Homo sapiens: one gene and its partners. The protein of the gene in region 1 purifies or fractionates together with the protein of each later gene. This does not show direct contact. Each region holds a gene or a part of one and is shown in the gene's direction. Other genes may lie near its edges.

What was found. Proteins that work in one complex are often made in the same cells at the same time.
Region 2: the proteins of PLEKHO2 (region 1) and CAPZB purify together in Homo sapiens (affinity purification with mass spectrometry; 5 studies listed by BioGRID and IntAct, with this or other methods). This does not show direct contact.
Region 3: the proteins of PLEKHO2 (region 1) and UBR2 purify together in Homo sapiens (affinity purification with mass spectrometry; 3 studies listed by BioGRID and IntAct, with this or other methods). This does not show direct contact.
Region 4: the proteins of PLEKHO2 (region 1) and FLAD1 purify together in Homo sapiens (affinity purification with mass spectrometry; 3 studies listed by BioGRID and IntAct, with this or other methods). This does not show direct contact.

What each region holds. Positions count from the first base shown.
Region 1 is NC_000015.10:64,840,288-64,845,057, forward strand, and holds the start of PLEKHO2 (pleckstrin homology domain-containing family O member 2), read left to right. Parts: upstream 1-1,627; 5' UTR 1,628-1,729; coding exon 1,730-1,741; intron 1,742-4,770.
Region 2 is NC_000001.11:19,356,540-19,360,039, reverse strand, and holds part of CAPZB (F-actin-capping protein subunit beta), read left to right. Parts: intron 1-2,476; coding exon 2,477-2,618; intron 2,619-3,288; coding exon 3,289-3,405; intron 3,406-3,500. UniProt on the Homo sapiens protein: F-actin-capping proteins bind in a Ca(2+)-independent manner to the fast growing ends of actin filaments (barbed end) thereby blocking the exchange of subunits at these ends.
Region 3 is NC_000006.12:42,686,029-42,689,528, forward strand, and holds part of UBR2 (E3 ubiquitin-protein ligase UBR2), read left to right. Parts: intron 1-2,187; coding exon 2,188-2,358; intron 2,359-2,958; coding exon of another isoform or gene 2,959-2,980; exon of another isoform or gene 2,981-3,500. UniProt on the Homo sapiens protein: E3 ubiquitin-protein ligase which is a component of the N-end rule pathway.
Region 4 is NC_000001.11:154,989,844-154,993,343, forward strand, and holds the end of FLAD1 (FAD synthase), read left to right. Parts: intron 1-315; coding exon 316-414; intron 415-495; coding exon 496-685; intron 686-2,721; coding exon of another isoform or gene 2,722-2,748; exon of another isoform or gene 2,749-2,869; coding exon 2,870-2,943; coding exon of another isoform or gene 2,944-2,947; exon of another isoform or gene 2,948-3,058; coding exon 3,059-3,194; 3' UTR 3,195-3,268; downstream 3,269-3,500. UniProt on the Homo sapiens protein: Catalyzes the adenylation of flavin mononucleotide (FMN) to form flavin adenine dinucleotide (FAD) coenzyme.

The sequences.
Region 1 (4,770 bases):
GGGCTCAAGCGATTCTCCTGCCTCAGCCGCTCAAGTAGCTGGGATTACAGGGATGCACCACCTCGCCTGGCTAATTTTCTATTTTTAGTAGAGACGGGGTTTCTCCACGTTGGTCAGGTTGGTCTGAACTCCCGACCTCAGGTGATCAGCCTGCCTCAGCCTCCCAAAGTGCTGGGATTACAGGTGTGAGCCACCGCTCCCAGCTCTTTCTTTTCTTTCCTTCCTTCCCTCCGTCCTTCCTTCCTCTCTCCTTCCTTGTTTCTTTTCTTTCTTTCCTTCCTTCATTTCTCTTTCTTTTCTTTTTCTTTCTTTCCTTTTTTCCTTCCTTCCCTCCCTCCTTCCTCTCTCTCTCCTTCCTCTCTCTTTCTTTTCTATTCTTTCTTTTTCTTGACCAGTGTGATAATATCAGCCTCAATTTTCTTCATTCCTTTAGCTAAAGGATCCCAGGCCTAGGCATGAGGGAGAAGTGTACCTGCATCTCCTTCCCCCTTGGCCTGGGAGCCCCAGGCTGCCCTTTTCCGTACAGGGCTGGAAGTAGCCTGGGAGCCTGAGGGCTGGCAGAAGGCCGTGAAAGGGGAGCTTGGTCGCTGGCACAGCCGCTGCTATGGCAGCCAGAGCCGAAGAAGGTCACCATTGATCTCACATGCACTTAATTTTCCCTTCCTTGGCATGGGACGGGGTTGACCAGGAGAGCTAAGGGGGAGTATGCGTGTGTGTGTGAGAGGGGAGCGGTGCTGCAGGCTGCGATGCAGCCAGTTACTTTCTCTCTCTGGGCCTCAGTTTCTCCAATGTAAAATGAGGGCGCATGGTATAACTAAAATCATTACTCTCTGCTGGTCCCCACACTCCCACTCTCCAGTAAGGCTGTCAGGGCTGCAAGCTCACCGCGGGATCGGGGGGATGGTCGACCCTCAGATACGGGAGGGATTGAGCGATGCCCAAGGAGAGCAGGAGAACACTGCGCTTGGAGACCCCTGAGAGCCAGGGGCGGGCCGCCCCCTAAAGGGACCCCGGAGTCCCGACTCTCAGCTCCAGCTCTTCCTGTGACACCACCCTCCGGACAGAGACCCAAGCTCCAGGCCCGGCCCCGCCCAGAGGTTCCAGGGAGAAGACCAGGCCACCGCCCACTGCCCGGCGTCGGGGAGGAAAGAGGAGGAGCCTCTGTGTGCCCACATCTCTGGCCGCCCAGGGCAGCTCGGCTCGGTCTCGCAACCCCAGCCCACTGGTTCGGGAGACCTCAAAGGCTCCACCGCCAGCGCCCCCAGCGCTCACTGTGTGCGCCCCACCCCAGCCCTGCCTGCGCGCCGCTCCCGCCACCCTCGCCTCAGTCTCTGGGCCGGAAGCCCCCTCTCCTCCCCCGCCGCAGCCCCCTCCTAGTCCCTCTCCCTCCGCCGATGCGGGAAACCTTCTCCGCCCCGTCCCGCCCTCTTCCTCCAGTTGCATCTCCGCCCGGCTCCTCCGTCCAGTCTCCAACCCAGGCCCCGCCCCTCCCCACCCATTTCCCGCCCTGGGCCGGGCCCCCGGCCCCACCGCCCCCTCCCCGGCCCCGCCCCGGCCCCCGGAAGCCTCACCCCGCCCCCGGCCCCGCCCCCCCGAAGTTTCTTGGGCCCCCGGCAGCCGGCGGGACAGAACGCGGAGAGTCGCCGCCTGGCCGGGCGTAGACGCGGTGGCAGAGCCCGCGCGGCGCTGGAAGCGAGTGGCGGAGCGGCGGGACCTCGGCGGACTCGCCATGGAGGAGGAGGTGAGGGCGGGGCCCGGCGGGGCGTTGGGCTGGGGTCCTCGAGCCCCTCACGGGGATTGCGGTCCTGGGCTCAGGCCCTCGTTCCTGCCCGCCCCACTCCCGCCAGTCTCACCTCAGGAAGAGCCTGGGCAAATGGGGCAGGGGCGAGGGGCTGGATCCATATCGGGGACTTCGCAGACCGCGTCCTCCTTCATTCTCGCTGACTTTCTCACCAGTTGTGGGGCGTCGTGGTTGTTACCGTTCCCATTGGATTGACCAGGAGACTGAGACTCCAGCGAGATTGATGACTTGCTGAAAGTGGCCTGGGTGACTGGGCTCGAACCCCGATTACCGTGGTCGGATCCTGACTCTCTCTCTCTCTCTGTGTGTGTGTGTGTGTGTGTGTGTGTGTGTGTCGGATCCTGACTGTGTGTGTGTGTGTATGTGTGTGTTGGGGGGTTCCTGTCTCAAGGATCGGATCCTGACTCTGTGTGTGTGTGTATGTGTGTGTTGGGGGGTTCCTGTCTCAAGGATGTGACCATGCTTTGGTGGCAGGAGGATTGGAGAAGTTGCTTTTTTCTCCCTTGTATAAGTCTCTGTATCTTTTCCCCCACTCTCTCCCCGCTCCACATCCATCTGAGCAGCTAGCTGTAGGGAAGGAATCGGGAGTCCGGCCCACCTAGGGTCTGATCTTAGTCCCTGCCTTCCCCACCCGAGGGCTGGACCAACTGTGTCCCTGGAGCCTCCTTCTAACCACTCAAAACACTCTTGGCCTGGGATTGGGTCTTGCCCCTGCCCCTGCCCTTTACTTGCAAACTCAGTTCTGCCAGCAGCCGCTTTATCCGAGGGTCCAGCACGCAGCAAGCACTTAATATATGCCTGTGGAATGATTAAGTTAAAATGAGGGGCCTGTTGGGTCTAGAGGAAGGTGAATTTGTTTCTTATCCCCTGAGGGGGTCCCAGCTTCAGCCCCTCTCAGCCCAAGGGAAGGGGCATGTCTTTGCCTCCTTGGATGGGGAGGAAAGATGAAGTTCTCTGCCTTGGGGGAACCCTGGCCAGCTGGGAAGCCCTGAGTGGACCGGACTGCCTGTGTCCCTTCAGTGCCCACCTCCCACTTTTCCAGGGCCATGGATAGGAGCAGCTAGTGGTCCGTCAGGGCTCCCTCTAGGCCAGGCCCTGCCTTTCTGTGGGATGGTAGATAAGTCACTTCCCCTCTCAGCCTTCATTTCCTCTTCTACAAAATATAGTGCCTGTCCTCCTCATACTCCTGGCCTGACAGTGGCCGGTTCTCTCAGTGGGTGAAGGTAGGGGGCAAAGTCAGGCCTCTGTGATTTGCTGCGGTTTCTTTCTGGCTGTTAGGTGGGGCTGCCATCTGCCTGCCCCAGGCCCCTGCTGCAAGGGCTGGGCTCTCTGGCCAGGGCCCCTCCCCTGCTCCCAGAGGATGTGGGTCAGGATTACTCCATCTCCTGATCTGCGCTGGCCCCTGATTAAGGGAAGTTCTCCGGACACCTCCTGGGCCCGGCTCAGCTCTGTACACCCTTGGTCCTGAATCTCTCACATTGTCACTTTCTTTTCTTTTTTTTTTTTTTTGAGACGGAGTTTCGCTCTTGTTGCCCAGGCTGGAGTGCAGTGGCGAGATATTGGCTCACCGCAACCGCCACCTCCTGGGTTCAAGCAATTCTCCTGCCTCAGCCTCCTGAATAGCTGGGATTACAGGCATGCACCACCACGCCTGGCTAATTTTGTATTTTTAGTAGACATGGGGTTTCTCCATGTTGGTCAGGCTGGTCTCGAACTCCTGACCTCAGGTGATCCGCCTGCCTCGGCCTCCGAAAGTGTTGGGGTTACAGGCATGAGCTATTGCACCCAGCCTATATTGCCACTTTCTGACTCCTAGATGCCCAAAGCTCTCTAAATATCTGGGCCATCTAAGTTCTTGTCCACTTTACCCAAGCCCCTGCAAGCCTCACCCCCACAGCAGGGGCTTCCTTTCCCTACTCCCCTTTGGCATCCCTAACTCTGCTTTCCTCCCACTTCTCCCAGTAGCTTCCGCTTGTTGCACTAGGCCTCAGTGCCCATCTTTGTTTCTCTAAAACACCTCTTAGGTCATAGCCACATGCTCTGCCCCATGATCCCAGGCCATCTTCATCATCTCTTTCACATGGCTGCTTTCAGCCCTCCTGCTAGCTTTCAGCTTCCTCCCTGTGCCCGGCCACCCTGGGCCAAGGTCCCTCAGCCTCAGTGACCTCCTCTATGCAACGGGCAGGCTGGTAGCTCTTGTCAGGCTGAGGCTTGGGGAGGAGATGCTGGTCTGGGCACTGGGCATCTGCCCACCTGTGTGCTCCTGGCCTCGGTTCCTCCTTTGTAAAAGGAAAAGGGTGGGTGATCGAGCAATGTGATGATGTATATTCAAAAGCTGAGAAAACTGCGAATATCAGTGGGGGTATTATTGCTGCCATTGGAGTAAGGGTGGAAATCCTGGACCTAGGCTTTCCCTTCTGTACTCTGGGGCTCTGTCCTCTGCCAGCAGTCATGCCTTTCCCTGGCTTCTAGGCTCTCCACTTGCCCTCACCATCTAGAGACAAGCAGGGCAGTGTCCTGTCCCAGTACTGTTTCTGTCCCACGGAGTAATCTCTTGCCCTTTCTGGGCTGTACTTTCTCTTTCTATAGTAAAGGGGTTGAGGGGGCAGGGGCTTTGATAACCTTTTGTGCCTTGCCTTCTCTGGACCAAGGCGTGTGTCTCTTCCCCTGCTCAGAGCCCTCCCCAAACCCTACCTTCTGCAGGGGTCTCCCAAACGAACCCCAAGCCCTTATCTCATCAGAGAGCTAGGACCGGTGCATCCCTCTGGTTAAGTGCTATGTCTCTGCCAATAGGCTGGAGCCTCTCAAGCAGGAGATTACCCGCTCCCCACCAGACAGGGGACTTATCTTATACAGCGTCTCTGTTACCCACCTCAGACTGAAGGTTGCCCTGGGGCAGAGCCTGTGCTTCCTCTCTCTCAATGCCCCGGCACAGGACTCTGACACGGTGGATTCTTAGTAGAGTTGGG
Region 2 (3,500 bases), on another chromosome or scaffold:
AATGGCCTGATCTCTCCAACTCTGTGTGGGCCCGGTCCAGACCAGGAGGGCTCTATGGAGGCAGATGGGGTTTTGGGCCCTGGACCAAAACACTCATCTGCTTACCTCGCCTCGCCCCAAGAATGGGGACTTTGGAGCAGACCGGAATAAAGGAAATGATCTTCTGGAGTGGGATCTCTGAGTGCCAGTGTTGGCCGGTTTCCTGGACATCACCTCTGCCAGCAGTGAGCTCTGGGCCTCACAGGTGTGTCTGTTCATCCAGTGGTCCTTTTCCTCTCGTAGGAAAGGATGCCTGTGCTGCACCTGGCCAGAGCCAGACCCTTCCCCACCCTGCGCAGTTTGACCAGCGATGGGCTCAGCATCTGACACCTGACACCTCCATCCGACAGGTGTTCCCTGAGTGACACTTGGTTAGCCAGACAGCCCTGCCCTCATCTGCCCTCCTGTAGACTCACCCGTGGACACACCATGGTGTACTCGGTTTGAGAGCTTAATCATAGTGGGTAGTGCCGGAGAGGGGAATGGGACAGGATGTGGTCCTGCCGCAGGGGCTGGCCGCAGCCTGCCTGAGGGAGCCCTGGGCAGGGGGCCAAGGGTAGCCCACCTGAGTATCGGCCCCCTGGATGCTCCGCAGGTCTGCGGGTTGGAGTGAGGGCAGACCAGCCAGGGCACCCTCATTCTCCTGGGAGGATGCCTTGCTTTCTTGGTCTGGTGGTCTCTTAGTTACATTACACTCCGGTGTATTCGTGTACTGATTTTTCACAAAAGCTTTTTAGTTTGGAATGGTATGACTTACTGTAAAATTGCAAAAAAAAAAAAAAAAAAAAAAGAGTACAGAGAATTCTTGTATACCCATCACCCACATTCTGTAAATGTGTATTTTTTGTTATATAATAGCTTTGGTGAGACATAATCTACAGATACATGTTAATTTCTAGTACTTAATTTTACATTAACCGTTTGGCAGGTGTCTACTTTTCCTAATTGTTTTTGTCTCTCAACAGCCGTAGAAAGTAGATTAAGTCCCTGAGGCCCATATTCACACCGCTGGTCCCTTAGTAAATAGTTGTTGGACGCATGCATGCATGAGCATAACTCATAGCTGGGCGTGCTAGAGCTGTCATTGGGTCTGTCTGACTCCCAAGCCTGTACCCACCCAGTGCACTCTGCGGCCCACCTTCCCAGCTGTCCAGGGCTGAGGGCAGGGTGCTCCCAGAATGCACCTGCCACACCGTGGCTTTGGGGCTTAATAGGTGTCAGAGAGGCCCCAGACTTTCTGATAAAGATGTGCTCACCACGAGAGATGAGATTTCTCTCTTTGGGGCTTAATTGGGGTCGGAGAGGCTACAGACTTTCGCCACAAGAAATGAGATTTCGCATAGTTTTTGTTGGTTATCAACAGCATTTGCGGTTCCCATCAGCTGACTCCACCCCTCACCTCTGCTCACGGCAGTCCCAGTGAGCCACAGTAGTTGACCTGGGTCTGTTGGGTTTGGGATCCCAGACTGATTCCCATTTCTCATCTAACCTTTTCGTTCCCTCTTCCATTTGATCGTAATTAGAAATCCCTCTTCCATTTGATTATAATTAGAAATGTTTCTGGGCCAGGCGCAGTGGCTCATGCCTGTAATCCCAGCACTTTGGGAGGCTGAGGCGGGTGGATCACTTGAGGTCAGGGTTTTGAGACCAGCCTGGCCAACATGGCAAAACCCCATCTCTACTAAAAATACAGAAATTAGCCAAGTGCAGTGGTGCACACCTGTGATCCCAGCTACTCAGGAGGTTGAGGCAGGAGAATCGTTTGAACCTGGGAGGCGGAGGTTGCAGTGAGCCGAGATGGTGCCACTGCACTCCAGCCTGGGAGATGGTGAGGCTTCATCTCAAAAACAGAAAAAAAGAAAAGATGTTTTTGCATTGCGTCGGATTTGAGGAGGAAGCACTGTCTCAAGCTGAGCCCTTCATTTCCGGCTAGCGCTTTGTAGGAGGTTGCTCCGAAAGACCAACTGGAGCCCTGGTCTGCCAGGCTCAGGAGGGATCAGGGTGTAGGGAGTTTGTTGCTGTATTTTCTCATCTGCCCTGTAAAATATCCCAAAAGACAGAAATATCGAACAACCGTGGTGACTCCAGTAGTCATGGCCTGCATGGATTGTCACTGGATGTCAGTCGTGCTGCATTCTTTATCTGGGAGGAGTGTGACGCCCAGAGAGGTTCAGTAAGCCAAAGACCACACAGATAGAGGAGGTGGCAGAGTCCAACCTCAGATTCATCTTTATGACGCCTAAACCTACTACACCCCCAGGAATGCTGCACCCCCTCCCCCAGCCACAGAACGATCAGAACACACCCAAGGATCGGCTCCCATAACTGTCGCAGGGAGGGCCCTGAATCCCAGAATCTTTGCTGAGCAGCAGCCTGGGACCCAGGCTGATGATCTGTCCTTTAGCATCTAACAGGCACATTGGCCTGTTTCCTGCAGGTATTTTGAAGGTGGCGTCTCATCTGTCTACCTCTGGGATCTGGATCATGGCTTTGCTGGAGTGATCCTCATAAAGAAGGCTGGAGATGGATCAAAGAAGATCAAAGGCTGCTGGGATTCCATCCACGTGGTAGAAGTGCAGGTACTGCCTCCCAGCAGCTGGTGGCCCGGGCCACTAAGTACAGATGGCACACCAACCAGTGCCGCGCTGCTCTCTAACAGATGCAGTAGGGGGATGCTGTGATCTCTGAACCCCTAATTCTGAGAAATGCCTCAAAGCCATTTGGATAAAGATAAGTCTGCAGTAGTCATTGATGATTAAGTTCCCAGAAGAAATACATAATTACAAATGTCCCTTTAAAAACCAGTTGAGATTTTTTAAGAAAGACAATATTGTGAGGCCAGGTACGGTGGCTCGGGCCTGTAATCCCAGCAGTTTGGGAGGCTGAGGTGGGCAGATCACCGGAGGTCAGGAGTTCAAGACCAGCCTGGCCAATATGGCGAAACCGCATCTCTACCAAAAACACAAAAAACATTAGCCAGGCGTGGTGGCGGGCGCCCATAATCCCAGCTACTTGGGAGGCTGAGGCAGGAGAATCGCTTGAACCTGGGAGGTGGAGGCTGCAGTGACTTGAGATCGCACCACTGCACTCCAGCCTGGGTGACAGAGCGAGACTTTGTCTCCAATTTAAAAAAAAAAAAGGTAATATTGTGATAATGACCTAGGAAGGGAGATGTTAGGATGACCCTGAATTCCAGGGGCCACTTCAGGCTCTCCCTCAGCTCAACAGATCTCTGTCTTGTCCTTCCAGGAGAAATCCAGCGGTCGCACCGCCCATTACAAGTTGACCTCCACGGTGATGCTGTGGCTGCAGACCAACAAATCTGGCTCTGGCACCATGAACCTCGGAGGCAGCCTTACCAGACAGGTAGAGTTACCCGCTCATAGCCACTTGCCAGTGCCCACAGGTGCTGGCCTCAGTGCTGACCTGCAGAGATGAGTGAGCAGGTGCCCCATTTAGGG
Region 3 (3,500 bases), on another chromosome or scaffold:
AACTATATAAGTTTCTATTCTTGAGCAGCATGTATTGTTATTTTGTATGTTTTTTTTTTAATTAGTATTTATTGATCATTCTTGGGTGTTTCTCGGAGGGGGGGATTTGGCAGGGTCATAGGACAATAGTGGAGGGAAGGTCAGCAGATAAAGATGTGAACAAAGGTCTCTGGTTTTCCTAGGCAGAGGTCCCTGCGGCCTTCCGCAGTGTTTGTGTCCCTGGGTACTTGAGATTAGGGAGTGGTGATGACTCTTAACGAGCATGCTGCCTTCAAGCATCTGTTTAACAAAGCACATCTTGCACCGCCCTTAATCCATTTAACCCTTAGTGGACACAGCACATGTTTCAGAGAGCACGGGGTTGGGGGTAAGGTTATAGATTAACAGCATCCCAAGGCAGAAGAATTTTTCTTAGTACAGAACAAAATGGAGTCTCCTATGTCTACTTCTTTCTACACAGACACAGTAACAATCTGATCTCTCTTTCTTTTCCCCACATTTCCCCCTTTTCTATTCGACAAAACCGCCATCGTCATCACGGCCTGTTGTCAATGAGCTGTTGGTTGCACCTCCCAGATGGGGTGGCGGCCAGGTAGAGAGGCTCCTCACTTCCCAGACGGGGCAGCCGGGCAGAGGCGCCCCCCACCTCCCGGACGGGGCGGCTGGCCGGGTGGGAGCTGCCCCCCACCTCCCGGACGGGGCAGCTGGCCGGGTAGGGGCTGCCCCCCACCTCCCGGACTGGGCGGCTGCTGGGCGGAGACGCTCCTCACTTCCCAGACGGGGCGGCTGCCGGGCGGAGGGGCTCCTCACTTCTCAGACGGGGCAGCCGGTCGGAGACACTCCTCACCTCCCAGACAGGGTCGCGGCCGGGCAGAGGCGCTCCTCACATCCCAGACGGGGCGGCGGGGCAGAGGCGCTCCCCACATCCCAGACGATGGGCGGCCGGGCAGAGACGCTCCTCACTTCCTAGACGGGATGACGGCCAGGAAGAGGGGCTCCTCACTTCTCAGACTGGGCGGCCGGGCAGAGACGCTCGTCACTTCCTAGACGGGGTGGCGGCCGGGCAGAGGCTGCAATCTCCGCACTTTGGGAGGCCAAGGCAGGCGGCTGGGAGGTGGAGGTTGTAGCGAGCCGAGATCGCGCCACTGCACTCCAGCCTGGGCAACATTGAGCACTGAGTGAGCAAGACTCCCTCTGCAATCCTGGCACCTCGGGAGGCCGAGGCTGGCAGATCACTCGCCGTCAGGAGCTGGAGACCAGCCCGGCCAACACGGCGAAACCCCGTCTCCACCAAAAAATACAAAAACCAGTCAGGCGTGGCGGCGCGCGCCTGCAATCCCAGGCACTGGGCAGGCTGAGACAGGAGAATCAGGCAGGGAGGTTGCAGTGAGCCAAGATGGCGGCAGTACAGTCCAGCCTCGGCTCGGCATCAGAGGGAGACTGTGCAAAGGGGAGAGGGAGAGAAGAGAGGGAGAGGGAGAGCTGTATGTTGTATTTTATTTTATTTATTTATTTATTTATTTATTTATTGAGACAGGGTCTCACTCTGTTGCCCAGGCTGGAGTGCAGTGGTGTGATCTTGGCTCACAGCAACCTCCGCCTCCCAGGTTCAAGTGATTCTCCAGTCTCAGCCTCCAAAGTAGCTGGGACTACAGGTGCACACCACCATGCCTGGCTAATTTTTGTATTTTTAGTAGAGACGGGGTTTCACCATATTGGTCAGGCTGGTCTCAAACTCCTGACCTCAGTTGATCCACCCACCTTTGCCTCCCAAAGTGCTGGGATTACAGGCGTGAGCCACTGCACCCAGCCAATTTTGCATTCATTCAGCATTGTTTCTAAGATTTATCTGTATTGACGTTTATAACTTTATTGATTTTTCATTGCTCCATAGTATTTTATTATATGGCAGTGGTACCGTTTATCTTTTTCTCCTATTGATGATTTTATTTATTTTTTTTTCTCCAGTTACTGATTCTTTTGAGTGTTTCCAGTACATGGTCTTTGTATATATGTGCAAGATGTTTCCTATTCCAGATTCTAGGAATAAACTTGCATAGACTGTAGGATATACACTTCTTTGGCTTTACTTGATATTGCAGAATTCTTTTCTGGGCTGGTTTTTTCATCACTAGCTCTTTAGCCACTCTTTAGATCAATGACTTGTGGGTTTTTTATCCCTTGGAGGTGCCCGAAATCAGGTGGTGATAAGAGCAGAGCCCCAACTCTGTGCCTTGTGTGCGGATCTCTGCTGTGCTCCCAGAGTTACTGCTGCCAGACTGAACTGGAAGGGGAGGATGTAGGAGCCTGCACAGCTCACACCTACTCCTGTGGCTCTGGAGTGGGCATCTTCCTGAGGTAAGGACCTGCAGGGGCTTTTTAGCTTTGGATCTGCCTCAGTATCTGACTGTTAGGGTGTCACAGGAAACTACTATATTGCCAGGAATTTTGAGACTACTGTTCCGTGTGATTCATTCCAGAAACGTGGAGCTCCTTGTCGCCTCACATCTCACATCTGGTCCATGCCAACTCTGTGTTGGTTCTTTTATTGTTACCATTCCCACTCCTCTTCCCTCAACCATAGGTGACAGTTCTGTTCTACTTTCTCCATGTCTCCCACTAATGTGAAACTTCTCTGATTTTCTGAACAAATCCAGTCAGAATTACTCTTTCTGTTATGTCCTCATGGCTTTTGGATTTTACCTCCACTTATACATATTATCACAACTCTACATGCCAGCTTGTGATTAGTGACTACTATGTACCAGGCATTGAGGATGCAGTAGTCCACAGTGCAAAGATCTCTGCCCTTATGGATGGAGCTTGTTTTGTATGAGAGAGAGGACAAGCAAGACTGACAAGAATTTAGATAGTGATATAGGCTAAGGAGAAAAAATAAAGCAGGGAAGGGGAATATGAAATGGCAGCTATGGAGCTAAATTTGAGATTTAATTTTAGTAGATCAGGGAAGGCTTCCTAAGAACATGACTTCTGAGTAAAGACCTAAAGAAGTGGGAGAACATTCTACTCAGAACATTCTGCACAGTTCCTGGGGTAGAAATGTGCCTGTCTGCTCAAGGCAAGGAGGCGCGTGTCACTGGAGTGTTGTGCACAGGTGAGAGAATCCAGGGGCCTGCTGTGTGCTGGTGACATCTCTGGGCAAGGTGTAAGCCATTTCAGGGTTTGAAGCAGAGGCATGACATGAGTGTGGGCTCCTCTGGAGCATAGGTTGTATCCATAGCTTAGTCATCCCCCCAGTACCTTGATAATTTCTTATACGTATTAGGTCCTCAATAAATGTCTGTTTAATTGTGCTGTACTATTAATGCCAGAAAAAGGCAAATGTCTCAAAGGGATCAGGGGACACAAATTTGACTCGATTCAACCTATTTCCTAGTTTGTGCACAATTTTTTAATGGATAACTTCCTCCTAATAGTGGTTTAAATATCAGTACTATAAGACTTCATTCTATTTGGAACTGAATACAAATGTTGGTTAC
Region 4 (3,500 bases), on another chromosome or scaffold:
CCATATTGAGTATATGATATGTGCCTGGCCTTGTGTATGGATGTGCAGGCCACTATCCCTGACGACAGGGAGGTCACAGTCCTGCTGGGGAGATGAGAGATTTACATACCTGAACCAGGGATGCGTGCTTAGATTTGAGAGGTGAAAGGTCAGAGTGGGCTTCCCAGAGGAAGTGGGTCTAATGGATGGAAAGGACAAGGAAAAGGGAGAAGGGGTGAGAGTCTGTCCTAGGGGCCAACGAGAACAGTGAGCTGTTTCAGGGGAGCCATTTCCTTGTCCATGCTCACAAGCCTGTGGATTCTTCCCCCTCTGCAGGAAATTACCTGATGTTCCAAACCCCCTCCAGATCCTGTATATCCGCAGCATCTCCCCTTTCCCTGAGCTGGAACAGTTTCTACAGGACACTATCAAGAGGTACTAGGGGCCTGGAGGTTTGGGCTCCAAGAGAAGCTTGACAGAGCCCACGCCCGACCCCTACTTCTGTTTCTTCCTAAGGTATAATCTGCAGATGTTGGAAGCTGAGGGCAGCATGAAGCAGGCCCTGGGTGAACTGCAGGCACGGCACCCCCAGCTGGAGGCTGTCCTTATGGGCACCCGCCGGACTGACCCCTACTCCTGTAGCCTCTGCCCTTTCAGCCCCACTGACCCAGGCTGGCCCGCATTCATGCGCATCAACCCACTGCTGGTAATGGGGAAGAGGGTTTATCACCTTCAGTCTCACGTGCCCCAGCAGTCACTGCACCCTAGCTCACCTGCAGTAGTGGGGAGGCTAGAGCCTGGAACCTGGATGAAGGGGCCTCATCATCCAAGGGAGGCAGTGCTATCTGTTCATTCATCCTTTTGACCAATATTTATTGAGCCCAAATTCAATAGCAGGCATTGCACTTCCTACTGTGGATAGAATAGTGACTTAGACTTGTGCTGTCCAATATAGCCATTAATTATTTATTTATACTTAAATTTTAATTAATTAGAATGAAATACATATGACTAAAAACCACTGAATTATATACTTTAAAAGGATGAATTTGATGGTATGTGGATACCTCAATTTTTAAAATTAAGTACAATTAAAAATTCAGTTCTGGCTGGGCGCAGTGGCTCACGCCTGTAATCCCAGCACTTTGGGAGGCCATGGTGGGCAGATCACTTGAGGCCAGGAGTTCGAGACCAGCCTGGCCAACATGGCGAAACCCTGTCTCTACTAAAAATACAAAAAATTAGCCAGGCGTGGTGGCCTGTAGTCCTAGTTACTCGAGAGGCTGAGGCAGGAGAATTGCTTGAACCCAGGAGACGGAGGTTGCAGTGAGCTGAGATGGCACCACTGTACTCCAGCCTGGGCAACAGAACAAGACTCTGTCTCAAAAAAAAAAAAAAAAAAAATATATATATATATATGTATATATATATATACACACACACATACACAGGCCGGGCGTAGTGGCTTACACCTGTAATCCCTGCACTTTGGGAGGCTGAGGCAGGTGGATCGCCTGAGGTCAGGAGATCGAGACCAGCCTAACCAAAATGATGAAACCCAGTCTCTACTAAAAATACAAAAATTAGCGGAGCGTGGTGGCAGGCACCTGTAATCCCAACTACTCAGGAGGCTGAGGTAGGAGAATCACTTGAACCCAGGAGGCAGAGGTTGCAGTGAGCCAAGATGGCACCACTATACTCCAGCCTGAGCAACAGAGTGAGACTCCGTCCAAACAAACAAAAAAAAAATACAGTTATTCAGTTGTACTAGCCACATTTCAAATGACCACCATATTAGACAGTAGAGATACAGAACATTTCCATCATCACAGGAAGTTCTGGCCAGGCACAGTGGCTCACACCTGTAACCCCAGCACTCTGGGAGGCCGAGGTGGGCTGATCAATGCCTGTAGTCCCAGCTACTCAGGCTGAGGCGGGAAGATCGCTTGAGCCAGGGAAGTCGAGGCTGTAGTGAGCCATGATCATGCCAGTGCACTCCAGCCTGGGCAACAGTAAAGGCCCTGTCTAAAAAAAATAGGGCTGGGCACGGTGGCACACGCCTGTAATCCCAGCACTTTGGGAGGCCGAGGCAGGCACATCACGAGGTCAGGATTTCAAGACCAGCCTGACCAACATGGTGAAACCCCATCTCTACTAAAAAAATACAAAAATTAGCCGGCTGTGGTGGCGCATGCCTGTAATCCCAGCTACTCAGGAGGCTGAGGCAGGAGAATTGCTTAAATCTGGGAAGCGGAGGTTGCAGTGAGCCAAGATCGCGCCACTGCACTCCAGCCTGGGTGACAGAGCAAGACTCCGTCTCAAAAAAAAAAAAAAAAATAGGGCCGGGCATGGTGGCACACGCCTGTAATCCCAGCACTTTGGGAGGCCGTGGCGGGCGGATCATGAAGTCAGGAGATGGAGACCATCCTGGCTACACAGTGAAATCCCGTCTCTACTAAAAATACAAAAAATTAGCTGGGCACAGTGGTGGGCGCCTGTAGTGCCAGCTACTCGGGAGGCTGAGGCAGGAGAATGGCATGAACCCGGGAGGCAGAGGTTGCAGTGAGCCAAGACCACGCCACTGCACTCCAGCCTGGGCGACAGAGCCAGACTCCGTCTCAAAAAAAAAATAGACGGTTTCTCCCTGTCCTCAAGCTCCACCCTTGCACTAGAGGGTGGTTCAAGAATGGAAAGCAGAGAGTGGAGAAGATGAAGTCCTTCTCTTTCTCTTTGCATACATAGAGCAAGCTATACCAGAGAATCAGATAGCAAGCCCTCCCTCAGAGGCCAAGGGAGCAGAAGAGCCATGGATGGGCCCCTTCCCAGGACAGCAGGGGTAGAAGTGGGAAAGGTGAGCATTTGTGACTATTCTATTACTCTGACCTCCCAGGACTGGACCTACAGAGACATCTGGGATTTTCTGCGTCAGCTGTTTGTCCCATACTGTATCCTGTATGACCGAGGGTAAGGGTATTAGGGGAAGGGAATGGGTAAGGGAGTTTTTAGGGTGCTGGGATAGGGAGGGCCAATAGGATCGCCCACCCTACCACATGCTTGCCCTCCACCCTCCCTGCTCCAGATACACATCACTGGGGAGTCGGGAGAATACCGTGCGGAACCCGGCCCTGAAGTGCCTGAGCCCAGGAGGACACCCCACATACCGTCCAGCCTATCTACTGGAGAACGAAGAAGAGGAGCGGAACTCCCGCACATGACCTCCCACCCTAGGAGGGAGGGAAGGACACCGTCCTAGGGTATAACCTGGCAATAAACCGTGCCTCTCACTGTGCCTGTTGCTCTAGCTGTGTCTTCCTGCTCCAGAGGATGGGAGAAGCAGAAGTGGGTCAAATGCTGCCAGCTCTGACTGGCTGTGCTCACTCTAAGGGGCCCAGGGGCAGGGCAGAACAGGCTGGAAAGGAGCTCTCACTGATGGTTCTCAATGTCAGCCTCAGCAGGAGCCCACCAGAGGGCGAAAGCAGGAGTTGTGCCAACCACTGGGAAAAGGGCAATCAGGCAGGGCA